Linked DNA regions of Homo sapiens: all the other regions are linked to region 1. The links come from fine-mapping of genetic effects on gene expression. A gene starts in region 1. Each other region holds a variant in brackets. All regions are shown on one strand. Distances are from middle to middle.

Region 1 (8,349 bases):
AGCCTAAAAGGATCAAATATTTAAATATAAAAAACGAAAGCACAGAAGTACTGAAAGAAAACATGATCAAATGTGTTTATAAACTTGAGGGAAAAGGCTTTTATTAGCGTCACACCAAGACAGAAACTATAAAAGACTGACAGATTTGACGTAAAATTAAGATACACACACATACACACACAAATACAAAGATACATGTATATTTCTGTGTATATAAAGAGCAGGGCGAGGCTGAGTATGGTGGCTCATGCCTATAATCCCAACACTTTGGGAGGCTGAGGTGGGTAGATCACTTGAGATCAGGAGTTCGAGACCAGCCCAGCCAACACGGTGAAACCCCGTTCTCTACTAAAAATACAAAAATTAGCCAGGCGTGGTGGCAGGTGCCTGTAATCCCAGCTACTCGGGAGGTTGAGGTATGAGAATCGCTTGAACCCAGGAGGCAGAGGTTGCAGTGAGCTGAGATTGCACACTGCACTCTAGCCTGGGTGACAGAGCGAGATTCCACCTCAAAACAACAACAACAACAACAACAACAACAACAACAACAGACGAGTGGGGGGAGTATGCGTGTGAAAAATGAGTGATAAATTGGGAAAAATATTTGTAAAATAAATGCCAAAGTCATTTGTTTCACAGTGATCTCTTATAAATTAATGCGAAAGTCAAAGATGATTTACAAAAGAACAAAGAGCCAATAAACAAAGGGGAAAAAAAGTTCAACCTGACAAATAGTGGAAGAAGTATGAATTAAAACCCCTTTATATATTTTCGGCTTATTATAGTAACAAAGCTTGCCTGAGTGCATGAGCTGACGCTGCCTGGTGTGGTAGAGGACATGGGGAAACACATATTCCCCTTCATTGTCTTGATATAAAAAATTGGTAGGGTCTTTTTGTAGGAGAGCTTGATAATATTTATTAAATCTTTAAAAAGTACATATTCTTTGTTTTCTTTTCTTTTTTTCTATTTTTCCCACAGTCTCTATAACCTAAGGGAAGTACATATTCTTTGATCTAAGAATTCCACTGCTGCAACAAATAAGGGATTAGAGAAATAAATGATCATACATCCTCCCAATAGAATACGTACAAGTATTAAAAAGAATGAGAGATATTTACATGAAAAATCTGAAAGAATATATGCCAGGCTATTAATAGTAGCTATATATCAGGCAAGAGAGCAAGGGATGGCACTGAGGGGAATAAGATTATACTGGTCTTCAGATTTTTTCCATATTTAAAAAAAGTAACACACACATAACTTGGTAACCAGAATAAATTTCTTTTGCATAGGGAAAGAATTAGGACCTTCCAAATGAAAACAAGTAGAGTTATAGTTTTAAAGGAAAGTGCAGCCCAAGGTAATACAGAGGAAAGGCAGTAAATGCGCATGGGGAATGGGTGGGCAGGAGGTGCTGGGGGGCTGTCAGGGGCTCATCAAGGGGCCTTTACCTTGGATAATTCATCAGGGCCCAAGGTCGAGGGTCTGGGCCTCTGCCTTGAATCTCTGCTTCAGGGTCAAAACCCTGGCCAGCAAGAGATGAGGGTGTGGAAGGCACCTCTCTTTGGAGGCTATGGTCATGAACACTGGCCAATTTCCAGCTCTTAACGTGTCCCTTTCTTGCCTTTGGCCTCACCATCCTCCTCTGTCCTAATGATCTTCCTTCCACTTTGGAAATCACAATTGCATTCTAATCCTGCTTCCTTGGGATTGTTACCAGAGTACCAAAATTGGAGCGGTGGGTGTTCTTACATGCTTTAGTCACAGATTTGCCGATAATCTCGTGGTTACTCCCACAGGTGACTGATCACATCCATCAGGCATGACTTGATTATATGAGAGTGTAACATCATTCCAACAGTAACAGAGGCATAACTGGTGTGCATTATGCTAGGCGAATTCTAAATGCTGTGTTTCATCTCACTCCTGGGCTAAATGACCCTGTGTGACCCAGTGATGTACCTGCTCTCCCAACTCTGACCCGGCAGTGCCCTTGCCTGTGGGTGTGGAGTGAGGATGTGGAGACTAAACAGCATTGGTGTTCGCTCCTTCTTCTTAAGCTTCTCCCAGTCTAAAATAAAACAATTTCTCCCTCTAACCATTTTGAAAGTATAGACTACAGGCTGTGCGCATTACTGAGAGGAGGAGGCTTCCTCCCTTCTGGGTCTTGCATTTGGATGGGCAGAGAGTGAGACAGGAGAGAGGCCAAGGGCTTGTTCCAATGAAAATTACTGACAGAGTTGACATTCTCAGGTACAGACTCACCTGGATGGAACTTCTCCAGAGGTAAGTGGGACAAATGGAATGGAAGGGAGAAGAAAGAGATGGGGGAGGCCGGAGGGAAAAGGAGAGGGCATGTAAGGAAAGGCCTGGCCGTCGAGTTGGCTAAGTGAGTGAGGGAACATGGGTCCTGGCAGTGGAGCACCCACCTGAGTCCGACGTTGTTGATATCATCCCACATGGAGGCAGGGGTTTCCCAGAATGCCTTATTCCTGGTGTTCAGGATCGTCTGGAAGGCACAGGGAGGGTGATGAATGATCTGAAGGTAGGGAGGTGTGAGGGGCTGGGTAATGGAAGGGACAATGAGTGGGGATGAAGATGCAGGGGTCTGAGGGGGAGGTCAGAAATGTGGAGTTGGGAACAAAGTTCAAAGGGTACCTGGACCCCTGCATAAGCATTGTTGACCAGCACATCTAGACGCCCTTGCTGTTCCCGATCCACTTGCTCAAACAGGCTTCGCACTTCACTCTCCTGGCTTGAATCGCACACCACAGGCACACATTGGCCCCCGAGGGATTGTGCCTGGAGTAGGACAGGGGATATGAGCTCACATTCACACATGGGTGTGAGTCATGACAAAACTCCCCAACCAAAGTGGGCTTGAGAACTGAGAAGACAATCAATCCTAGGAGAGCCTGCTGCAGAGGCAACATGGCAGGCAACGCTGCCCTCTGGTGTCTGTTTGAGTAGTTTCAGGAATGATAGGCCTCCCCACCACAGAGCAAGGTGAATTGCAATGTAAGTTTTAATAATCTACAAACATTTACTGAGGCCCACCATGTGCACAGCATTGTACTTTGCAAGTAGAGGGTAAGAACAAGTGAGGCATGGAGTCTGCTCTTGAGAAATGAGTAAGCATCCTTTTCCTTGTTGTGGTCATTTCCATCTCTCATGCCCTTAGCTCCCACCCTACACTACTCACCTAAAACCTCTACTCAGTCCCAGTTGTCTTACCCTCACTCCACCAATGCTCCTGGTTGGTAATTGAAAAAACCAAAGCTATCAGCCATGAATGATTTCTACTTCCTGTTCTGTCTCACTCTCTACAAATGCCCACAAACCTCCAACTTCAGAGGAAGAAGAGTCCTTTATCTAAGAACAATCCTCCTATTCTCCAAATTTATGCTCTGGGTCCCCGCCTATTACCCTCCTTGCCTGAACTACTGCAATGCCTCCCAACGACTCACCTGACCTCCAGTCTGTCTGCCTTAAATTAATTCTTCATAATCCAGCCAGTACGACCTATCTAAAACACAAACCCTGTTCAAAATCTCCTAACTGGATCTCCATCTCTTAGAGGATGAAGCCTGAGTTCTCTATTAGGGTCTTCCAAGACCCACTCTTTCCTCTCCAGCCTCTCACTCACTACTCTTCCCTTGCATTATCTCACACATCTACTCTTTCACACAGCGTCCCTATGCTTATGGAGCTCCCTCTGCTGGAATGCTTTTCCTAACTTCCTTTACCTAATTCTTACCTTTCAAAACTCAGTTCAAGAACCACCTACCTCCTCCAGGACGCTTTCCCAAACCACTTTCCCTAGCCACTCTCCTATGTCATCTGGATGCTCCCCAACACCCCTAGAGTATTCTGTGCATATCTCCCTCTTATAATTTACCATATTCACATTACATTGAAGTGACTGCTTTCTGTACCTGACTTCCTGTTGGAATCTATCTTCATTTTTAATTAAAATTTTTTTTTTTAGAGACAGGGTCTCACTGTCACCAGGCTGGAGTGCAGTGGTGCAATCATAGCTCACTGCAACCTCGAACTCCTGGGCTCAAACGATCCTCCTGCCTCAGCCTCCCAAGTAGATGGTACTACAGGTGCAGGCCACTGTGCCTAGCTAATTATTTAAAAAATATTTTTTGTAGAGACTGGGTCTAGCTATGTTGCCCAGACTGGTCTCCAACTGCTGGCCTCAAGTGATCTTGCTGCCTTGGCCACCCAAAGTGCTGGGACTACAGGCATGAGCCACTGTACTCCACCATGGACTGAATCTTTGAAGAGCAGAAATTAGATTTTATTAGTCTTGGTAACTTCAGTGGTTTACCAATGCCTAGCAAATCATGGATACTCAAATATTTATTTAACTGAAGTCTAGTAAATAAGTAAAAAATGTGCAGTTCAATAAAGTCTTGCCTGAAATAGAGGAAAGCACAGGTCCACAACCCTTTAGTTGCAATTCCAAAATCTCTGCTCTCAAACAAAAAGTTTTTTACTTTTCTTTCTTTTCTTTTTTTTAATACAGTGTCTCGCTGTGTCGTCTAGACTGGAGTGCAGTGGTGTGATCATGGCTCAACTCCTAGGCTCAAGCGATCCTCCTGCCTCAGCCTCCGGAGTAGCTGCTGGGACTGCAGGAACGTGCCACCATGCCTGGCTCAAACACAAAGTTTTTTCATAAAACTCACTTGGCGGCAAAATTCTACCTTACCTGAAGTTATTTACGGGGTTTTTAATTTCCACTTTGAATAAATATTCACATCTTGTTGAGTAGTATTATAGTTTCAGGTAAGGGATTAGGAAAGGAGCTGTTAAGTGGAAGGGCTCTCTCGGGTGGTTTCTGCAACTGTGGTCCCAGAGGAAGCACTCACCTCCTGAGCAACAACGCGAAGGGTGTCCAGATGGCGGCCAGTGATGTAAACTGTGGCGCCTGCTTTGCAGAGCTGCAAGGCAATGCCACGGCCAATACCCCTGGAGGCACCAGTCACCACACACACTTGGCCATTCATGGGAGCTGCCATGACTCACAGGCAAAGGAGGCAGGTCTGTGGAAGCAAAGACTTACTCTGAGGGAAGCCTGGAGACTGTGTGTGTGTTGGGGCGAGGTTGGGGGGTAGGGGAGAACCTCACTAGGGCTAAGAGGAGGAGCCAAGGTAAGAATCCTTTGAGGGGAGAGGAGTCAGAGGCTGACAACTGGGTGCGGGCCTGAGGACAAGGCTGACTGTCTTTTGGGAGGCCCAGAGAGTGAAGAAGGGGCTGAGTGGGACTGTCCAGAGGTGGACAACTACTACAACCCTCTGAGTGTGGCTGCCTGGATATGGGAATCTGGCGCGGCAGCCCCTCGGGGCGCGTCCACGCAGAGTCCTGGGCTATCTGAAGCTCCGGTCCCTGGCCTGACCCAGTCCGGCTGAGCCAGAGGCGCAGCTTCCGGGCCGGGGATGAGCGCGAAGCCTGGAGATCCTAAGCCCTAAGTGGGACGAGCGTGCGCCGCTTACCTGCCACCTGCGCTGCCGCTGAGGTCTGCAGATTGCGGGGCTGCGGTGGAAGTCTGGGTTCTCGCCCAGATTGAGCCGGCGACGTGGAGGCAGTGTTCAAGGATTGATTCTGTAGTAGGACCCGGGGCGATTCTGTGCTGAGGTAGAGGGGCAGAGTCCCAGGCCAAAGTTAGAACCTGCGGATGGGGGCGGAGCGATCTGGGTGACACACCCACCCCGCCCGGCTGGGGCGGCGCGGAACTATGACGTAGTAGCTGCGTCAGGAGCGCGCCCGCGTTTCTAAACTTTGTCTGGATAAGGCGCACGCTTGGCGACGTCGAAGGTCCGTCCGCAGTTAAGGAAGCTTTTGCAGCCGGACAGGTCGCGAAGCACACATGGGGCAGGGTCCGCGCTCTCCACACAAGGTGGGGCGCCGGTTCCCAGCTGGTGGCAAACGGGGGCGCGGGGCCAAGGGGTCGGGGCGCCCCTTACCAGGCCGTAAGCGGCAACCCTGGCCGCCTCCGGATGGGCGCTCGGAGCCGGCTCCAGATTCGCACCCGCACCTGAGCCCGGAAGCTCTGGGATATTTCCGCCGGGCGCTGTCAGCATTGAAAGAGGCTCCCGAGACTGGGGAAGAACGAGGTAGGCAGCAACTTCGGGGTTTAGACCAAGAGCATCAAATCCAGGGCAGGCAAGGAAACTTTCTAGGGTCGGCAGGGCGTGGGGACTTAGTTTCATTTCCCATGTCCTCTTCCTCGGCCTCCGACCCACGACCCTTGGTTAAGCGAGGGTACATAACTGTATTCTCTACTAAGTCTCTTCAAAGTGTGTCTTTCTTCCCTTTTCAGATCTGATGGTGCACAATATAATGAAGGAAGTAGAGACTCAGGCCCTAGCTTTGTCCACGAACAGGACTGGCAGTGAGATGCTGCAGGAACTGTTGGGATTCAGTCCCTTGAAACCGCTTTGTCGCGTGTGGGCTGCTCTGCGCTCTAACTTGCGCACTGTGGCCTGTCACCGATGCGGGGTCCATGTATTACAAAGTGCTTTGCTACAGCTCCCTCGATTGCTGGGGAGTGCTGCAGAGGAGGAGGAGGAGGAGGAGGAGGATGGAAAGGATGGTCCCACGGAGACCCTGGAGGAGCTGGTCCTGGGACTAGCCGCTGAGGTGTGTGATGATTTTCTTGTCTACTGTGGAGACACACATGGCAGCTTCGTGGTCAGAACTCTGCTTCAGGTGTTAGGAGGGACTATTCTGGAGTCTGAGAGAGCCAGGCCCCGTGGTTCCCAATCATCTGGTAAGTATTACAAGAGGAAAGTGGACCTAGGGGGAAGAAGAATTTAGAAAGTTCAGAATGAGACAGTAAACAGAAGAGTAAGTCTTCATGGGGGAGCTTGACCGGGAAGAATTAGCTTGACCTGTCCTAATCTGAACAGGGCTTAGCAAGCCAAAGATTAGTGTGTGCGGAGGCCCAGAGGTAGGGATGTACAGTTGTGTTTGGGGAAGGCTATTAGAATGGACGCAGGAGGAGAATTTTTTTTAAGCATGACTTAATATACAAATGGACTTAAGCAAAAGTAACATACACACTGGACTCAAGCAAAAGTTCAGGAAACTATACCCTTACTACATGCAGCCCACTCTGTTATTTTTTTTTCCTTTTCAAAACTATTCTGCTCTATTTCATTTAAAAAAAATGCTAGTTGAGACCACTAACTTGATTTCATGGTACAGTCTTGAGCTGTGATCCACATTTTGAAAAACTAGGAAATAAAGTTAGCGAGTTTAAATGAGGCTTTATTTTGGAATGGCTTGAATACCTGGCTGAGGAGGTTGAACTGTCTTCTGTGGACCATGGGGAAGCTGGTTGAAGTTTCTTAGAAAAATTAAGACAGAAATGTAGTCTCAGTTCAGTCATCCAGAAGAGACATTTAGTTGTACTACATCTGTTCTGCATCTCCAAGCGGAATCCTTGTTCATCTGTGAAATTTTTCTCTCCTGGATGGCAGTTTGTGATCTCCCCACTGCACATGTTCTTAATCTTCCTTCAGAAGCACAGAAGACCCCAGCTCAGGAATGTAAGCCAGCTGATTTTGAAGTCCCTGAAACCTTTTTGAATCGCCTTCAGGACCTGAGCTCCTCCTTTCTGAAGGACATTGCAGGTAAGGAGGGAAGTAGGAGGATGGTCTCGTATCTACTTGTCTGGAGGTCATCTTACCACCAAGCAAGGCCCTTACCTCAGGTTATTCCTCTTCTTTTCAAACCTGGTCTGGTTTGACGTTCAGAGCACTTTGTATAGTCCCTTTGTGTCCATAGTGCCCTGTATCTTGTTGCCTAAAGTTTGAGGTTACGCAGGTTGTCTGGATTTTGGGAAAGCCGCTTTATTTCTGCCCTCTCTCCACAGTGTTTATCACTGATAAGATCTCCAGCTTCTGTCTTCAAGTGGCTTTACAGGTTTTACACCGCAAACTTCCCCAGTTTTGCGCTCATCTCTGCAATGCTGTGATTGGCTACCTGAGTACTCGCGGTTCCTCAGTAGATGGCAGGTATGGTCAGGGCCTCAGGATCGACCCAAGTTGGCGGGGCTGTGTGAAATGAATGAGGTGATGTAGTGCAACTGTATTTTGCATGAAATGGAGTTAAGACTGCCTGATGCCCTTCTTGTCCCTAGTCCCCTACTGCTATTTCTCCGAGATCAGACGAGTTCCAGACTCCTGGAGCAGGTCCTGCTGGTGTTGGAGCCCCCAAGACTCCAGAGCCTCTTTGAGGAGCACTTGCAGGGGCAGCTGCAGACCCTGGCTGCACATCCCATTGCCAACTTCCCTTTGCAGCGCTTACTGGATGCAGTCACTACCCCTGAGCTGG
Region 2 (8,514 bases), 22 kb after region 1:
GCAGTATATTTCAGGGGGACCTCTGATGCTGCTGACCCTGGAGATAGACTAGAGTTCTCAGCCTAGGTGTGTCCATGGCGTCAGGAAACCCTTGGTCCTCTACTCTCATGCGTGTGTCCGCCCTCACTCTCCAGGTCCTCCCGACGGCCATGAACACTACATCTTCTGCAGCACCCCCCTCACTAGGTGTAGAGTTCATCTCTCTGCTGGCTATCATCCTGCTGTCAGTGGCGCTGGCTGTGGGGCTTCCCGGCAACAGCTTTGTGGTGTGGAGTATCCTGAAAAGGATGCAGAAGCGCTCTGTCACTGCCCTGATGGTGCTGAACCTGGCCCTGGCCGACCTGGCCGTATTGCTCACTGCTCCCTTTTTCCTTCACTTCCTGGCCCAAGGCACCTGGAGTTTTGGACTGGCTGGTTGCCGCCTGTGTCACTATGTCTGCGGAGTCAGCATGTACGCCAGCGTCCTGCTTATCACGGCCATGAGTCTAGACCGCTCACTGGCGGTGGCCCGCCCCTTTGTGTCCCAGAAGCTACGCACCAAGGCGATGGCCCGGCGGGTGCTGGCAGGCATCTGGGTGTTGTCCTTTCTGCTGGCCACACCCGTCCTCGCGTACCGCACAGTAGTGCCCTGGAAAACGAACATGAGCCTGTGCTTCCCGCGGTACCCCAGCGAAGGGCACCGGGCCTTCCATCTAATCTTCGAGGCTGTCACGGGCTTCCTGCTGCCCTTCCTGGCTGTGGTGGCCAGCTACTCGGACATAGGGCGTCGGCTACAGGCCCGGCGCTTCCGCCGCAGCCGCCGCACCGGCCGCCTGGTGGTGCTCATCATCCTGACCTTCGCCGCCTTCTGGCTGCCCTACCACGTGGTGAACCTGGCTGAGGCGGGCCGCGCGCTGGCCGGCCAGGCCGCCGGGTTAGGGCTCGTGGGGAAGCGGCTGAGCCTGGCCCGCAACGTGCTCATCGCACTCGCCTTCCTGAGCAGCAGCGTGAACCCCGTGCTGTACGCGTGCGCCGGCGGCGGCCTGCTGCGCTCGGCGGGCGTGGGCTTCGTCGCCAAGCTGCTGGAGGGCACGGGCTCCGAGGCGTCCAGCACGCGCCGCGGGGGCAGCCTGGGCCAGACCGCTAGGAGCGGCCCCGCCGCTCTGGAGCCCGGCCCTTCCGAGAGCCTCACTGCCTCCAGCCCTCTCAAGTTAAACGAACTGAACTAGGCCTGGTGGAAGGAGGCGCACTTTCCTCCTGGCAGAATGCTAGCTCTGAGCCAGTTCAGTACCTGGAGGAGGAGCAGGGGCGTGGAGGGCGTGGAGGGCGTGGGAGCGTGGGAGGCGGGAGTGGAGTGGAAGAAGAGGGAGAGGTGGAGCAAAGTGAGGGCCGAGTGAGAGCGTGCTCCAGCCTGGCTCCCACAGGCAGCTTTAACCATTAAAACTGAAGTCTGAAATTTGGTCAACCTTGTGAGTGGGGTACATGTGCTGTGGGTATCGGGGTGCTCGTGGGCGCCCTGGTGGGGCCCCTCTCGGTAGTTGAGAGTCACGTCCTTTAGTTCCCCATGATTTACAATTTTGGAAGGGACACAAAGAAACATAGACTTCCCCCATCCCAGATGATTCCGAGTACATAGTCTGCAGATAATACTTAGCAAAACGCAGTCTACAGACTCCTAAAGCAGCTTGTCTAGGAAGACCACCCATGTGGGCTTATCACTCCAGGTTCTGTGACCCGGGACCTTCTGAGAAAACAGCACTGCTGTGAAATATCTTCCTTGAAGCCTGTGATAAGTCTCCTTGTTAGAATGACTCCAACTTCCTGCCAATAATCTTTGTCCTCTCCATAGGAGATGTTCTAGGGGATGCCTTCCTTCCCTCCATTTCACAAAGAGGCCAGACTTGAGGACTAAGTCATTAGATCTTATCCCTTAGAATTTTGCATATCAGCATCTGCTAACCTCCACAACACACCCTGGCACAGGGTGGGGCTGAGGGCCCCAGGAAACAAAGATTCCCAAAAGTGAGAGGGATGAGTCATTATTTCCTAGAGATGACTGTTGTTTTAGAGAACCTTGGTCCAACTCTGTTCTGACAAGGTTTTAGGAAGATGGCAACAACAGTGGCAGCAGTGTACTTTTTGGATCTTTCTCATAAAAAAACAAAAGAGCAAGTAAGAGAGGGAAACCAAATATCCACATGCAACATCCGCAACAAATCTAGTATGTCAAGGTTTGACATACTCCCATGGACCCCAAAGTATGAGCCAGTGAGAATGAGTCATCAATATCTCAAGACCCATATACCAGCATCTGTGCAGAAGGATGCAGAAGGAAGCAAAGGGATGTTGGATGGACCTAAGAAGAGGAGATCCCCAAGCTGTCTACAGATCCTTACTGGAAGGTATGGTGCACCAATTTGAGAACAGCAGCTGAAACTGGGAGGGACCTAACGGAGTATTTCCCAGTCCTCTCGCCCATTCTGTATGGTGAGCACATAATAGGTACTTATTTAGTGTTTGTCGAATTAATAAAGTTCAAATGACATTTCCCTGGAGATTCTTCCGGTATTTTTGAGTAGGGGGCAGGAAAGGGCAAATTTTTGTTTTGAGTCATGTGGCTAAATTCTTTATGCTTCCAAGGTGTACAAAATACTATAATCAAGTTGGCAGAGAGGCTGAGGGAGTTCTCTTCCTGAGCTTGTGAAAAAAATCACTCCCTTTCAAAATGCTTAGTCTCACATGCATGCATGTGTGCAGGCATGTGCACACACATTCACACACACACTCGCACTAAAATTGGCCTGGGAAGAAGAAGAATTCCCACTGAAGGGCAATGAGAAGGTGATCCCCAGCTATATCAGCAGCTTCAGACATCAATGGGCTCCAGACACCCCAGAGTCTCTTTATTGAGGTTCTTAGAAGGCGAGTGCAATCTCAGCCTAGGGTAGCTGAAGGAGGTCCAGTTCGTGTCAAGTCTGTGTTCAGGAAGTAGGTGCAGAGCTGCCCTTTGCCTTTCACCTTGATGACACCCCGGCTGTAGCAGGTGTAGCCCAGGGACTGTAGGGCCCATGCTGTCTCCTCAGTCACCTACAATTGGAGGGGGGCGAGGGAATATGGAGGTGGCCCTATTCTTAGTCCCCCTCCCCCTATGCCTCCAATGTGGTTCCCTCACTTGGATTTTGCCAAGGACTCCTGTACTCTCCATGCGGCTGGCCACGTTCACTGTGTTGCCCCAAATGTCATATTGCGGCTTCTGGGCCCCAATAACTCCAGCTACTACGGGTCCATGGTTCAACCCTAATGAGGGATGTGGTAATGACAGACTTGGAGAAGGAAGAGGGGAAGAGGAAGCCACAAGGAACTGGAAGGAAGGGAGAAGAGCCTGGGGGGCCCTAGAGGAGAGGAGGGGTCTCTAAGGGCTGGAGGAATGTAGCTTAAGAAAAAGAGTGGGAGAGCCTCGTACCTCCTTGCCCAGCACCTTCACACCCCATCCCAGGGAGTGAGTCAGGAAAGGGGCTTCAGGATGAACTGGGAGCAGCTAACAAAGGACTTGGAGTGGGGCAAGCTCAGGAAGGTGAGGAGGTACCAGACTGCTGCAGCAGGGGAAGTCTCTCACCCACTCGCAGGCGGAAGTTGTTGAATGAATGCTTGTTGATGACGTCCAGCTTAGACCCCAGGGCCACGGCAAATTCCACCATAGTGCCAAGGTGGCTGCAGCTCCGTTCAGCATCCTGGCAATGGGCCCGCCCACCAGGGTGGGCCAGTGAGGGCACAGGAATAAGTCCCACTAATAAGCCCATCAATGAGAGCCCAGAGGAGGATGGTAGGTAAGGAAGGGTTGCCGTACCTGTTGTGCATCCTGTCCAGAGGTGGCATTTAAGCCTGTGGCTGCCATGTAGGTGCTGCCGATGGTCTTGATCTTCTCCACCCCACTGAACTTGGGCTTGGAGAGCAGCTGTATATAGAGAAGAGTCCTGTCCCCAGTCTCTCTTACTCTCTCCATCACCTCTCCCAGAAGCCCAGCCCCAAGCCTTTGGAGTTAAAGGATCAGGCTGTGGGAGTGGAGATAGTGTCAGGAAGGAGAGGGTTGGTGGTGGGCAGTGTTGCTGGAGTGGGTAGATCTGGGGGATCAGAGGAGGTGAGGGAGTACTGTGGAGGGGAGGATTGACTTCATGGCCAGAAAAGCAAAGTGGAAGGAGGTACTGGTGGAAAATTCTAGAATCTAGGACATAGGGTCTGGGAGACTCTTGGAATTTTCACCTCATCAAAATCAGCAATTATCTCATTGAGCAGCCTCAGACACTCTAGGCCCTCATGATTGATGTTGGATTCAGAGTAGAACTCCTTGAAGTCTGGGACTGAGGCGAAGAGGACACAAACGCATTCATAGGACTGGTGGTAGAGATCCTGGGGGAACAGGAGACTGGAGTGAGGGGTGTGTGTCATGTTCCTCTCCCTTCTAGAGGTCTGCGTGGGGCCCTCCTCCCCATGTCCACACTCCTGGTCTCCCTGTTTAAGAAGAATTGGGAAGGAGGGAGAGGAGTAGGGCCAGGCTACCCCAGGGAAGTGACTTAGGAGTCAAAGCTTAGATCTCATTGTAATTCTAGAAGAGACAGAGGTTTGGCGTTAGGATCACCTCACAGCAACACGAAGGGAGTCACTCCTAGAACTGGGATCCTGTCAATGTGAATTATTTCTATATCCTATCTTATTGCTGAAAGGTGTTTAAGTCAATTAAGCCGGCTACAAAACCAAGGGTAAAATGTGTTTAAGTGTTTAAGTCAGTTAAGATAGGTACAAAATGAAAGATGAAGTAAGCAACAATAGGGACTATGAGGCAAAGGGAAAATAAGGGTAAGATAATAAAGATGGAATCAGATCTGAGGGTGGTTCACAAAATGAGTGCCATGAAATCCTATTTAGTCTTAGATTTTGGCTCTCAGCTTTCTAGCAGCCAAAGTGAAGAGAGAAAAGGATCGATTACAAGATTCCTTGTGTCTGTAAGAGAAGAAACCAGAAAAGAACTACTGATCTTGAGAGCAGGGAGCAGGCGGTGGGGGCATAAGGCTGTGAAAGAGCTCCTGAGCTGTTTCTTTTAACATCCCTCAATATGAGCCAAGAGCATTTCCACAGCAGAGGGCCAGCAGATGATACAAATAAGATGGTACAAATATGTGGGTGAATTTCTGATGGTTTGGCGCTAGCAAGATTTTTGAGGATCTAGAGCAGCAGCATCCAATAGAAATTTTTGCAATGGAAACATTCCCTATGTGCAGTGTCCAATAGGGTGGCCACTAGCTACGAGTGGCTGTTGAGCCCTGGAAATGTGGCTGGTGCAACTGAGGAACTGAATATTTTATTTTAATTAATTAACATTAAAATTTCATATGGCTAATGGCTACCATATTGGATAGTGCAGGTCTAGAGAGAGGGGTGGACTGTATCCTCTAGACCAGCAGTCCCCAACCTTTTTGGACCCAAGGATGGGTTTCATGGAAGACAAGTTTTCCACGCACCCAGGCTGTGGTGGGGGATGGTTTTGGGATGAAACTGTTCTACTTCAGATCATCAGGCATTAGTTATTAGGTTGGTGCAAAATTAATTGCATTT[CT/C]TTTTTTTTTTTTTTTTTGCCATTAAAAGTAATTACTTTTAGGCCGGGTGCGGTGCGCCTGTAATCTCAGCATTTTGGGAGGCCAAGGTGGGTGGATCACCTGAGATCAGGAGATCGAGATCAGCCTGACCAACATGGTGAAACCCTGTCTCTACTAAAAAAAAAAAATATAAAAAAAATTAGCCAGGCATGGTGGCAGGCGCCTGTAATCCCAGCTACCTGGGAGGCTGAGGCAGGAGAATTGCTTGAACCCAGGAGGCGGAGGTTTCAGTGAGCTGAGACCGTGCCATTACATGCACTCCAGCCTGAGCGACGAGAGTGAAACTCTGTTGCACTCCAGCCTGAGCGACGAGAGTGAAACTCTGTTGCACTCCAGCCTGAGCGATGAGAGTGAAACTGTGTCTTAAAAAAAAAAAAAAGTAATTACTTTTAATTATATTACTTTTAATGGCAAAAACTGCGATTAATTTTGCACCAGCCTAATAGATTTTCATAAGGAGTGTACAACCTAGACCCCTTGCATGTGCAGTTCACAATAAGGTTCAAGTTCCTATGAGAATCTGATGCTGCTACTGATCTGACAAGAGGCAGAGCTCAGGCGGTAGTGCTGGCTCACCGCTCACCTCCTGCTGTGTAGCCCAGTTCCCAACAGGTCATGGACTAGTATCAGTCTGCGGCCTGGGGGCTGGGGACCCCTGCTCCAGACAGCTCCCATCAACGCCTAGGCTTCTGGAATGTATGGAATGGTCATGAGTTAGAGAAGACATGCCTTCCAAGTAAGAATTTGAAATGCAGTTTTGTGCTCACCAAAGAAAGAATCTAAGATGTTGTGAAAACAAAGACGCTTGACAAGCACAAGGGCTTGGGTGACCCTTCTGGGGGTTCTAGAGAAAACGGGCCATAGGTCAAGGCTTTCATCTGAAATTAGGCCCTATGGCATCCGTGGCTCAGGAGTCAGGGGGTCAGGAGTCACCTCGTTGCGCCGGTTCTGGCCAATGAACTGGGGGGCCACGTGTGCAGGGAGCACGTTCTCCAAGAGCAGCCGAGTCAGGTTCTCCATCGTCTCTGTCTCCTCCCTCTCCTGCCTCAGCTTCTTCTTCCACAGGAAGTCCAGGCGGCAGTAGTACTCATTCTGGGGAGGGTCACCCGGGGCCATGGGGAGACACAGAGCAGGGGAAGCCCAGCTCCTGAGTGTTCAGCCCCAACTCCATGATGCCTGAAACCACCCCCACCCCACCCCCAGTTTAGAAGTAGAGCTTAAGGTGTAAGTATACTTGGAGAGAGACTATCCTTGAAATTAGATTCAGACTAGGGATAGAGAATTGGCAGCAGACTTTTTCTAAAGCATGGGCTTTCCCAGATAGGGGTGTGGGAGAAAGGAGGGGCAGGGAGTGAAGGAGAAGAAAGGAAGCAGGAAGGCTCGCTTAGAAGCTTCCAATGGGCATTCAACCCTGGAGATTAGAAAGATCAAGTCACAGATATGGGGGCCACTCATAGGTGGGCCCTGGTGGGGCTGAGCTGGGTGACTTACCTGGCGAGCCAGGACAAGGAGGGTGAAGAAGAAGATGAAGAAGGAGATAGCACCCATCAGTTTGGGCTCCTTCAGCACTCCGGGCCTGAAGGGGCCATGGATCAGGGTGACCCCTTGCTTTCCCCCTTCCTGGCCTTCTCCCTGCCCCCATGTAGGCCTCCGCTTCCCTCCCACTTTGCCCTGTGGGTGATTCAGGTCGGTGAGGCCAGGACAGCTCTGCTGTATCCCATCTCACCCCATCCCAGGGGGCCCGGCACCTCTGTCCAGCAGCTGTGCACACCTGGAGTCCAAGGGGCCCAGATAGAGGCGGACGATGAGGCATTCCGACAGCCAGGCATGGGAGTGCAGGAAGAGGGAGCAGGATGCCGCCAGCCACAGCAGGAGCAGCAGCAGCTTCAGCTCGAAGCTCATGTGCAGAAAGAGGGAGCAGGAGAGGAAGCCCAGCGTGCAGCAGTGCATGGAGTACTGTGGGGCCAGGCAGGGGTCAGGAGTGGGCATGTCCCATAGGCAGAGGGGGGACACCTGAGGGCTCCCTTCCTGTCCCTCCCAGGCCCAGGTCCTATCTGGGAGACAGGGGGCATCATACACACTGATACACACTGGGTGTGACTTATGTCTGTTCTAATCCACAGAATGGAGCGTTCCTCCACTCAGGGGGCTGTGGGCTTGGGCTGAGGAAGGGTGTGCAGAAGGAGATTAAGGGCATGTGGGAACACTCACTGGGACACTGATGAGAGGCAGAGACCCAGGGAGCTCCCAGGAGAGGTTGGAAATCATGGAGGACACATTGGGAGCTTGGAAAGGGCAGTCTGATGATGTTGGGAAGAAGAACTGCAGAGGAGATGAGGAGTTGAAGAGGCAGGTAGCTTCTTGGGCACAGTGGTGGCTTGTGCTGGGTTTCAGCTGACCCAGGGATGAGTCAGGGGAAGACTCGTCCAAAGGGGTGGATCCTGCTATTTCTGGTTGGGAAGGGAACCTCAGCACTGGGGTCCTCACTCGGGGAGGAGTTATGTGAGGGGCGTCAAGAGTACTCCTCTGACTCTGAGCCACTGTGTGAGCTCTTGCCAGCCACTTAGCCTCTCTGGGCCTTAGTTTCTTCTTCTGTAACTTGGCTGGTGGGTGATTCCCAGGTGCCCACCAGGAATAGAATTCTAGGAATGAGTCTAAATCCTGAAGAATCAGCCAAGTGATCTAAGTAATAAGTAACTGCCTACACAGAAAAAAGATAAGAAGGACATTCACCGAAGTGTTATCAACAACTATTATGCCCAGATGGTAGATTGCTGGAGACTGTAATTTTTTTCTTTCTATTTGTACAACATTTCCAGCATCCCCTGGGCTTAGTCCAGCTGCCTGCCCAAATCCAGGGGTTCCCTTTCAGTCCCTGGCAGGT
Region 3 (9,762 bases), 88 kb after region 1:
AGCATCTCTCTGTACTTCTCTCTCCTGGGCGTGAACCCTGAGGGCACTAGTTAGGCCAGGCTGTTCCCAAGCAGCCCCCACCAAGGTGAGGGAGAATCCTGGCAGGGCCGGGAGCCAAGGGCCAAGTGGCAAGGAGGCAGCTCCATTGCTGGGTGGCGCTCTACTTTTATGCTCCTTTGAGCAATTCCTTTCAGTTCTTCCTGGATGTCTTACTTTCCTAGGGCTGCTGAACCAAAGCACCACAAACCGGGTGGCTTAAAACAACAGAAATTTATCGTCTCACAGTTCAGGAGGCCAGCAGACTGAAATCAAGCTGTTGGCAGGGTCGGTTGCTTCTGCAGGCCCTGAGGGAGGATCTGTTCCATGCCTGTCTCTTAGCTCCTGATGGCTGCTGGCAGGCTTTGATGTTCCTCAGCTTGTCGAACCATCACTCCAATCTTGGCCTCTGTTGTCACATGGCTGTTCCCTATGGCTCCTCTGTGTCTGTGTCCAAATCTACCTCCTTTCTCTTATAAAAGACACTGATCATTGGATTTAGGGCCCACCCTAATCCACTATGACCTCATCTTAACTTGAATACATCTAGAAAGACCCTGTTTCCAAATAATGTCACATTTACAGGTACTGGAGCTCAGGACTTGAACATATCTCTTTTGGGGACCCAACTGAATTCCCTACACTGGGTTTCCTGCAAAATTTTGTCAGTCATTATGATCTCAATTTTGCTATGGAAGGTTAAGTAAAAGTGCCCGTGTTTGAGTCCAAGTAGTGAAGGGGAGAACATCGTCTTCTGATGCCAGCTTGGTAGATGCAGCCATAATTCATGGGATTCCCAAGGGAAAGGTGACTTTTGAAGGAGGAAAAAGTAGGAATTTGAGGCCCAAATCCTCAAGAAATTCTTCCTGTCCTGCTGCCCTTAGACAATCTTGGTGTTATTTTATTTGGGATGCTGGCCGACTGTAGATTTACTTACAACTACATTTCCAAACTGGAAAGAGTTAATAAGATGAAAAAGGAGTAAGTCATTACATGAGGATGGGATTCTTCATGAGTATTGTATATTAAAAGCTCTGAGGAGTCCTCTGAGAAATCCCATTAGCTGTTTAATCCAGTGTTTCCCAAACTTACTTAATCATGATGCTCTTTTCTGTAGGACAGTACTGTGTTCATTAATTACTCCCATGTAACACATTACCCCATAACGTAGTGGCTTAGAACAACAATGAAAAACTATTTCTCAGAGTTTCTGGGGGTCAGAAACTTGGAAGTAGCTTGGCTGAGCAGTTTTGGCTTGGTATCTTTCATGAGGCTACAGTCATTGGAAGTGTTGCTGGGACTGGAGGATCCATATTCTAGGTGGCTCAGTCACAGGGCTGGCAAGTGGGTGTTGGCTGCTGGTGGGAGGCCTCAGTTCTTCACCCTCTGGGCTCTCCACAGGGCTGCTTGTGTGTCCTCATGACATGGCAGTTGGGGCTTACCCCACCGTGAGCTACCCAAGAAGCCAGGGTGGAAACTTCATAACCTTCCCTTGGAAGGAACTGTCACCTCCACCATACCCTATTAATCACACAGACCAGCCCTAATTCAGTGTGGGGACACCAGAAGGTGAAGGTCATATGGTGCTATCTTGGAGGCCGAGTGCTACATTAATTAATTCACTCAACCAATATTAACCAGTACCTAATAGTGCCAGGCACTGTTCTAGACACTGAGGATACAACAATGAACACAACAGACATACACTTGTCTCCATGGAGCTCACATTCTAGTGATACTTCATTCAATGCTTGAGACAATTTGGGAAATGCTGTTTCACAGGTATTTGGAACAGTAAGTGAGAATTGTGAATACAGAATGATAAATGTGGCCAGGTGCAGTGGCTCACGCCTGTAATCCCATCACTTTTGGAGGCCAAGATGGGCAGATCGCTTGAGCCCAGGAGTCTGAGACCAGCCTGGGCAACATGGCAAAACCCTGTCCCTACAAAAAATACAAAAATTTGCCAGGTGTAGTAGTGCACGCCTGTAGTCCCAACTACTTGGGAGGCTGAGGTGGGAGGATCACTTGAGCCTGGGAGGCAGAGGTTGCAGTGAGCCAAGATGGTGAAACTGCACTCCAGCCTGGGTGACAGAGTGAGGCCCTGTTTAAAAAAAAAGAAAAAGAAAAAAAGATAAATGCTAAAACAGGAGAGAAACTCACAATATCAAGGGAATGAGGTCTCCTGACATAGGCTTGGAGAGTGGTCAGGGATGGTTTCCTGAAAGAGGTAGACGTGAAGTTAGCCAATCACAGGAGGAGTGGGAAGAGGAAAAGTGTTGCAAGCAGATGGAACAGCATGTACAATGCCCCAAAGCTTGATACAGTTGGAGAACGAAAGTGGCAGGAGCATACTATGTGTGTATATGTGTTATGTGTGTGCTCGTGCATGTGTGTGCCTGCCCATGCATGTGAGGTGGGGAGAAGAGGTGAAAGATGAGGTTAGATGAGGTAATTTGCTGTGGGAGGGGAGGCACAGAGATGTCAGTGATGGCATCCATGTGCCTGGTGTCAATCACAGTGATAGAGTATAGACGGGGAGAGAAGGGAGTGGAGAAAAGGAGTAAGAGAGGTTTGGGTTGGTTATGAAATGAAGAACTCAGTTTTGTTCACACTGAGTACAAGCCATCTTTGGGGTTGTCAAGAGCCTGTTACAGGTTAGCAATTCCGCAACTGCTTTCTATGCATACCAGTGTTGAACAAATAAGTAAATAAACTGTCGCTAGTGGGAGGCAGGTTTCTCACTGTCACAGAAAGAAGAGGGGTGTTAGGATGGTGGTGGTGCTGGATTTGAGCTGGAGATATCAGCATGAATTCATGTGCATTTTAATACATATATGTACACTCAATAGTATAGAATATCTTTAATAGATCCATATAGATATCTTTATCTATCTATAGATCTCTATATGGATTTATAATCCATAGATGTCTATATGGTGTGTATGTATGTACAAACAGATAGAGAAATAAATATAGATATGGTATACACACACACACAAACACACACACATATATATATATAAAATGTATGTTAGTATATATACTTATATTTGTTAGCTTTGTCTGCAAAGAGGGCCTAAAAGAAGTGATACCCCATTAGCAACAAGAGTACTTAGCACCCAGATCTTGGTTTCTAAATAATATTCTCCAATAAAGGAGCCAGGGTTCCTTGGAAAAATGGTTAATTCTTGAGCTGGGACAGGGAACACATAAGATGATCCTGGAACAACTTTTAGTGCCAGAAAATAAAGAAGTGCAAAAAAAAAAAAAAAAAAAGGGAAGGAAGGGGCATATCAAAAGGACACAGGAGCCAACCTGAAAGAGCTCCCAATGGCCAAATCTGGAACAGTTTGAGCAACGGTAATAGATAATAATATTGGATTATAACTCCAAGAGTAAAATAAACCTTTATGAATCCATACTGATGTAAATAAAGTCTTGAATAAATAACTAAATGAGAGAGAAGAACTAAATGCAGAAGAATTCTAATTATAAATGTATAAGGAATAAGGAAAATAGAAAATCAGTATTAGATCATCACAATAATAATTGCTACAGGCAAGATCCATTGATTAATGCTAAAAGCAGTAGATAAAACTTTAAGGAAAAACAGGACATTTGCAAAGCCTTCAAGTATCTGCCCCAAAATACATGAATACCTGAGTGGTTTTCACACACTATCACAAATTCTTTGATTTCCCTTTCTCCAGGAGGTGCAGCTTATTTCCTCTTGCCTTGAGTGTGCTCTGGACTTGGGGACCTCCTTCTTACGGACTATGGAAAGAAAAAAACAGTAACTTTACAGTAGAGAAACCTCACAAACACCACCTGAACCGAATGGTCAAGATGAAGATCACCAGCAATAAATCATGTTGACATCATGTGCCCCCATATACTGCAACGAGAAGCGCACATCACCTTTGTGCTACTCCTGCCAAAATCAACAACCTTAGTCTTTTCATGAGAAAACACCAGACAATCCCAGATTGGGGGACCTTCTACAAAATACCTAACCATGAGTCTTAAAAAGTGTTGAAATTTAAATTAAAAAAAAATTTTTCTTAAATAGGGTCTTACTCTGTTGCCCAGGCTGGAGTGCAGTGGCATGATCATTGCTCACTGCAGCCTTGGCTTCCCAGGCTCTAGCAATCCTCCCACCTCAGCCTCCAAGTAGCTGGGACTACAGGTGTGCACCACCACGCCGGGATAATTTTTGTATTTTTTGTAGAGACAGGGTTTTGCCATGTTGCCTAGGCTGGTCTCAAACACCTAAGCTCACGTGATTCACCCACCTGAGCTTCAAAGTGCTGTGATTACAGGTGTGAGCCACTGTGGCCCACCCACTTTACATGTTTTAATTCTAAATTTGCTGCAATCCTAAACCAAGGCTCAGAGCAATTGATTAAAAACAGCAGCAGCAGCAGAAGAAGAAAATACGTTAAGGAGGCCGGGCGCTGTGGCTCACACCTGTAATATCAGCACTTTGGGAGGCCGAGGTGGGTGGATCACTTGAGGTCAGGAGTTTGAAACCAGCCTGGCCAACATGGCGAAACTCCATCTCCACTAAAAATACAAAAATTAGCTGGGCATGGTGGCGCAAGCCTATAATCCCAGCTACTCGGGAGGCTGAGGCAGGAGAATCGCTTGAACTTGGGAGGCCGAGGTTGCAGTGAGCTGAGATCGTGCCACTGCACTCCAGCCTGGGTGACAGAGAGACTCTGTCTCAAAAAAACAAAAACAAATAAACAAAAAAAAAAACAAAAGAAGAAAACACGTTAAGGAGTATTATCTGCTCCAGGAGGCTTGACAAGCCCTTTACATACATAGCTCATCTTATTTAATCATCTCCCAACAATCCTGAAAAGTCTGTCCTGTTATTATTCCCATCTCACAGGTCAGGAAACTGAGGCACAGAGGGTTTAAGTAATGTCTGGAGTTCCACAGCTTGCCAGAGACAGAGCTGGGATTTGAAAGTCTATTTCCTAACTCCAGGTCCGGCGATCTTTTCCACAACACTGCAGCCAATTCCCCACCACATGGGTGAAATCAGATGAAAAGTAAACATCTAGGGCAGTCTTCAAATGAGGCAGCCAGACAGGCCACAGATCGAACTTCAGACTTTTAACCAAAGGTTCTGGGATTCATGCTCCCAGTTGGACACTGTTTACTTCTTAAGTAGTAAAATGAATGGGGTTGGATAGATCCAAACAGTGCCTAAGATCCCTTCCAATTCTAACACTCCAGGAGTTTATGTTTCAAAAGAACAACCTGCAGAGGAGCCTGCAGAATGGGACCCTCCCACTCAGGGTGGCCTGGTAGAATATAGGACATGCATGTCCCACCCCCAGTCCTCTCTGCAAAAGGTAGAGTCAGGGAGGGGAATATGGGCTGAGTGTTCGTACAATGAGGCTGGTTTTTAGCCCCCACGCACTCCCTTTCCCTACTGCATTCTTTTTTTTTTTCTTTGAAAGATGCTGCTCAGCCTTGGAGAGAAGTCTTCTTCATCCCTGATGGCAAAGGGCAGAGGAAGAGAGACGCCCAAGGGCTCGATCAGCCTTGGTACCTTGCCAACCCCCAGTCCCTAGCATCAAAGGTTTTTCCAAGACAGAGTAGGTAAATTTCAATTTTATTTTATTTATTTATTTATTTTTTTTTGAGGCAGAGTCTCACTCTGTCACCCAAGCTGGAGTGCGATGGCACGATCTCGGATGACTGCAACCTCTGCCTGCCGGGTTCAAGCAATTCTCCTTCCTCAGCCTTCCTAGTAGCTGGGATTACAGGTGTATGCCACCATGCCTGGCTAATTTTTTTTGGCATTTTTAGTAGAGGTGGGTTTTTGCCATGTTGGCCAGGCTGGTCTTGAACTCCCGACCTCAGGTGATCTGCCCGCCTTGGCCTCCTAAAGTACTGGGATTACAGGCATGAGCCACTGTGCCCAGCCTCAATTTTATCTTGTGTTGTTTTTGTATTATTTTCTCCATCCTCAAAACTCGGACACTTCCTAACTTAGCACCCATTGGCTACTGCTCATAGTCCTGCCTGGTTTGGGGTTTCCCAGTTTGGGGTGGATCTGGCTACACTTCATTTTCTGCCTCCATCGAGACTCCCTATTGTTTCTTTGAGGTTCCATTAGGTCAAGGCAAACACTTCTCTTGTTCTCCCAACATGTAGCAAAATGTCACAATTCTTTTTGGCTCCGTTGTTCATTAGCCACTCCATTTCGTTATTCTATTTGCACTACTTCATCATTGAGCAAACTTTTTTTTTTAATAAGGATTTGTGATGGTTAATTTTATGTGTCAATTTGGCTGGGCTAAGTGATGCCCATAGAGCTGGTAAAATATTATTTCTGGGTACATCTGTGAGAGTGTTTCTGGAAGAGATTAGCATTTGAATTGGTAGACTAAATGAAGATCTTCCCTCATCAATGTGGGTCCACATCACTCAATACATTGAGGGCCTGAGTAGAACAAAAAAGTAGAGGAAGGGCAAATTATCTCTATTTGAGCCCAGTCGTCCATCTTCTTTTACCCTCGGACATCAGAGCTCCAGGTTCTTGAGGGAAGGGCACACATAGATTAGTGTTTTCTGCACAATCAGTTCACTCACTTCTCCTTGTCTGACCCATGAATGTGTCCGTATCTTTTGAGGTTC[A/AT]TTGGTTCAGATGCTACAGACACCACCCTTCCCCAGGCTGCTGAAATGACTTTCAAACTTGGACTGAATTACACTACTGGCTTTCCTTGTTCTCCAGCTTGCAGTCAGCAGATTGTGGGGCTTCCTGACCTCCATAATCACATGAGCCAATTCCCATAATCTCTCTCTCTGTCTCTCTCTCTGTTTCTGCTATTGGTTCTGTTTCTTTGGAGAACCATGACTAACACAGGATTATAGAAACTGCAGGAGAAAATGTTAGTGCCTGTTGGGATTAGAAAGGCACATACGATAAAGCCCTATCCTCAAGGCTGCTGCAGCTGTGATAGGAGCTCCTCTTACAGCTCCATTTATTTGTTCACAAAGGATTTACTATGTGTTAATTATCAGGCAATGGTAGGCACTCAGGATACCAAGATCAACAAGATATGATTCCTGTCCTCAAGCAGTTCACACCTAAGAGATCACTAACTGGTGACTTGAGGCATTTGATTGGCAAGATGCCTTAATTATTTCTCTTTGTTATCTATGGCTGTGTAACAAATCACCCCAACTTAGTGGCTTAAAACCACAATAATTTACTTTTCCTCACAGTTCTGTGGCTTAACCTGGTGATTCTCCTCCTGGTCTCACCTGGGCACACTCATGTGGTTGCATTCAGATGGCAGTTTAGCTAGTTGGTCCTAGACAGCCTCACTCCCAAGTGTGAAGCCTCAGCTGGGGCGGCTGGAATGGCTGAGATGAGTTTCCTTCTGTCTGCCCATGCGACTTCTTTCTGCCGGTATCTCAATTTCCTTCCTTCCGGCTATCCTGGGCCTCTTTACACAAGAACAGAGCATTCCAAGAGGCTCAAAGTCAAAGTTGCAAGACTTTTTGAGGTCTCGACTCAGTGTTACAAATGTTACTCCCACTGCATCTTATTGGCCAACACAAGTCACAAGGCCAGGCTAGAACGGGGAGGAGGGGGAATAGAATTCATCTCTGATGGGGGAGCAGCAATGTCCCATTGTAAAGGGTGGGCAGATAGAGATGGGAGGAATTTGTGGCCATAGGTTGCAGTCTACTACAGCTGCTACAGCGAAACAAAATTAGATTTCACATAAACGTCAAGTTTACAATATTTTTTCCTTAACAATGGGGAGATTTGGCAACAAGCCACTGGAGCTGAGTAACTGCTGTGCCATTTAGACTGGACGTTCTATCTCTAGCCCATCATAGTCTCTACCACTTCTTTTTTAAAGAGTTGGGTTCTTGCTCTGTTGTCCAGGCTGGAGTGCACTGGCATGATCATGGCTCACCGAAGTCTCGACCTCCTGGGCTCAAATGATCCTCCAGCCTCAGCCTTTAGAGTAGCTGGGATTACAGGCACTCACCACTCCAGCTAATTTTTTTTTTTTTGGTAGAGGTGAGTTTTGCTTTGTTGTCCAGGCTGGTCTTGAATTCCTGGCCTCAAGTGATATCCTCCTGCCTCGGCCTCCCCACTACTGCTTTATTTATTTATTTTTTTAGATGGAGTTTTGCTGTGTTGCCCAGGCTGGAGTGCAGAGGTGCGATCTCAGCTCACTGCAACCTCCGCCTCCCGGATTCAAGCGATTCTCCTGCCTCAGCCTCCCGAGTAGCTGGGACTACAGGCATGCGCCACCAGACACAGCTAATTTTGGTATTTTTAGTAGAGACAGGGTTTCACCATGTTGGCCAGGATGGTCTCAGTCTCTTGACCTCCTGATCCGCCCGCCTTGGCCTCCCAAAGTGCTGGGATTACAGGCGTGAGCCCCCGCCCCCACCCCCACCTATCGCTTTTTAAAGGTGAGGAAATTGGGATTTCCAGGGCTAGGATGTAGTAGTCTCTGGGCTACCGATATCAGAGTCTGTTTTTAACTACTGTATTCAACTGCCATCACCAAATGGGTTCTATGGATAATTACATGGGAAACCACTGCTGGGGAGTTACTAGAAAAGTTTGAGTAAGCTCATGCCACAGAGCAAGTGATGCTCTTCAATTAACTAGGAGTCTGGATTCAGAGCCAAATAGGGGTGAGGGAGGCGAATGGTCTGGTGGCTGCTAGATCAGTTTGAAAGTCATTTCAGTAGCCTGGGCCAGGGAGGTGTCTGTAGCATCTGAACCAAATGAAACTCAGAAGATATGGACACATTCTTGGGTCAGACAAGGAGAAATGAGCGAACTGGTTGTGCAGAAAATACTAATCCAAGTGTGCCACTTCCCTCTGAGAAACTTTGTAGGCTCCCTCCTGCCTATACCTGCCAGTCTCAGTGGTAACACATTGTTCTGTTAAAAAAAAGAGGCTGTAATGTAAGCTATGGACTTCGGTTGTTAATGTTGGGTCAATGTTGGTTCCTCTATTCTAACAAAAGTATCACACTGGTGCAGGATGTTGATAGTGGGGGGAGGCTGTGCACATGTGGGCACTGGAGGCATATAGGAAGTCTCCTTTCCACTCAGCTTGGCTCTAAACTTAAAACTACTTTAGAAATAAATTCTATATACACAAAAAGTGGAGGAGGAGGATGGTTTCTGAGGTAAGTTTAGGAAACTTAGGTAAATAAGTTGATTTTTAAAAAAACTGCGGGGCTTACAGCATTGCTTTTACTTCATAACAATATAGTCACAAAACATAATTATGCAATTGCTTTTTTCAACTTTGGACGCAGGCTCCGTGACAGCAGGGCACTTACTCATTGATGTATCGCCAGCACCTAGAATGGTTTGGCACATGGTGGACACTTCTTAGTACAAGGAAGAAGGGAGAAACAGTCAACTCGCAGGACTTAATGATTGACTGGCTGAGAGAAGTGGGGGGCAGTTAGCTTCAGAGTGGCTTTGGTTAGTCATAACCTTGCTAGAGACTTCCCAGAGCTCCCACTCCCTGTCCTTCTCTGCTTGACTACTAATGGCCTGAGACCCCTCAGCCTCCATGGGACCAGCTTTTGCCCTCACCCTGCCATCAGTGGCTCCTAGGCATGTGCCCTTCATCCACCGTGCTCACTGACCCTCCTTCAGCCCTCCAGCCTCCTGCAGATACTCCCCCCAAAAGCCCCTTCCGCACAGCTTGG

Direction of the effects. Positions count from the first base shown, and alleles are read on the strand shown. Sizes are in standard deviations (SD) of each study's normalised expression. Not every link is listed here.
With allele AT in place of A in region 3, the expression in monocytes after LPS of the gene that starts at base 5,704 in region 1 is lower (moderate effect, 0.75 SD a copy in Fairfax 2014).

What was found. PIP is the estimated chance that this variant, and not a neighbour inherited with it, causes the effect.
Region 2: its variant is the best candidate, but not a certain one, in a credible set for the expression of DHRS1 in lymphoblastoid cells (TwinsUK, PIP 0.62).
Region 3: its variant is the best candidate, but not a certain one, in a credible set for the expression of DHRS1 in monocytes after LPS (Fairfax 2014, PIP 0.87).

Annotation. Positions count from the first base shown.
Region 1 is chr14:24,294,077-24,302,425 of GRCh38, forward strand. DHRS1 (dehydrogenase/reductase 1) reads right to left here and starts at 5,704. Exons shown (of 9, transcript NM_001136050.3): 1 at 5,505-5,704; 2 at 4,881-5,054; 3 at 2,662-2,805; 4 at 2,433-2,512. The coding sequence starts at 5,030. NOP9 (NOP9 nucleolar protein) reads left to right here and starts at 5,774. Exons shown (of 10, transcript NM_174913.3): 1 at 5,774-6,125; 2 at 6,332-6,781; 3 at 7,536-7,646; 4 at 7,889-8,030; 5 at 8,156-8,348. The coding sequence starts at 5,879. RefSeq lists an enhancer at 4,258-5,048.
Region 2 is chr14:24,315,503-24,324,016 of GRCh38, forward strand. It overlaps ADCY4 (adenylate cyclase 4), which reads right to left. Exons shown (of 25, transcript NM_001198568.2): 17 at 7,842-7,952; 18 at 7,402-7,586; 19 at 7,122-7,206; 20 at 6,564-6,722; 21 at 4,240-4,386; 22 at 3,827-3,934; 23 at 3,596-3,710; 24 at 3,152-3,276; 25 at 2,857-3,066. The coding sequence ends at 2,914. LTB4R (leukotriene B4 receptor) reads left to right here. Exons shown (of 2, transcript NM_001143919.3): 2 at 135-2,534. The coding sequence starts at 150. The coding sequence ends at 1,208. Among named protein-coding and RNA genes, the nearest start is that of LTB4R, 8.3 kb to the left of the region's middle. RefSeq lists enhancers at 578-1,078, 6,110-7,069. The variant CT/C (reference allele first, on the strand shown) is at 5,590.
Region 3 is chr14:24,381,822-24,391,583 of GRCh38, forward strand. LOC124903292 (a long non-coding RNA gene) reads right to left here and starts at 7,588. Exons shown (of 3, transcript XR_007064086.1): 1 at 7,324-7,588; 2 at 3,699-3,813; 3 at 2,100-2,140. The variant A/AT (reference allele first, on the strand shown) is at 6,694.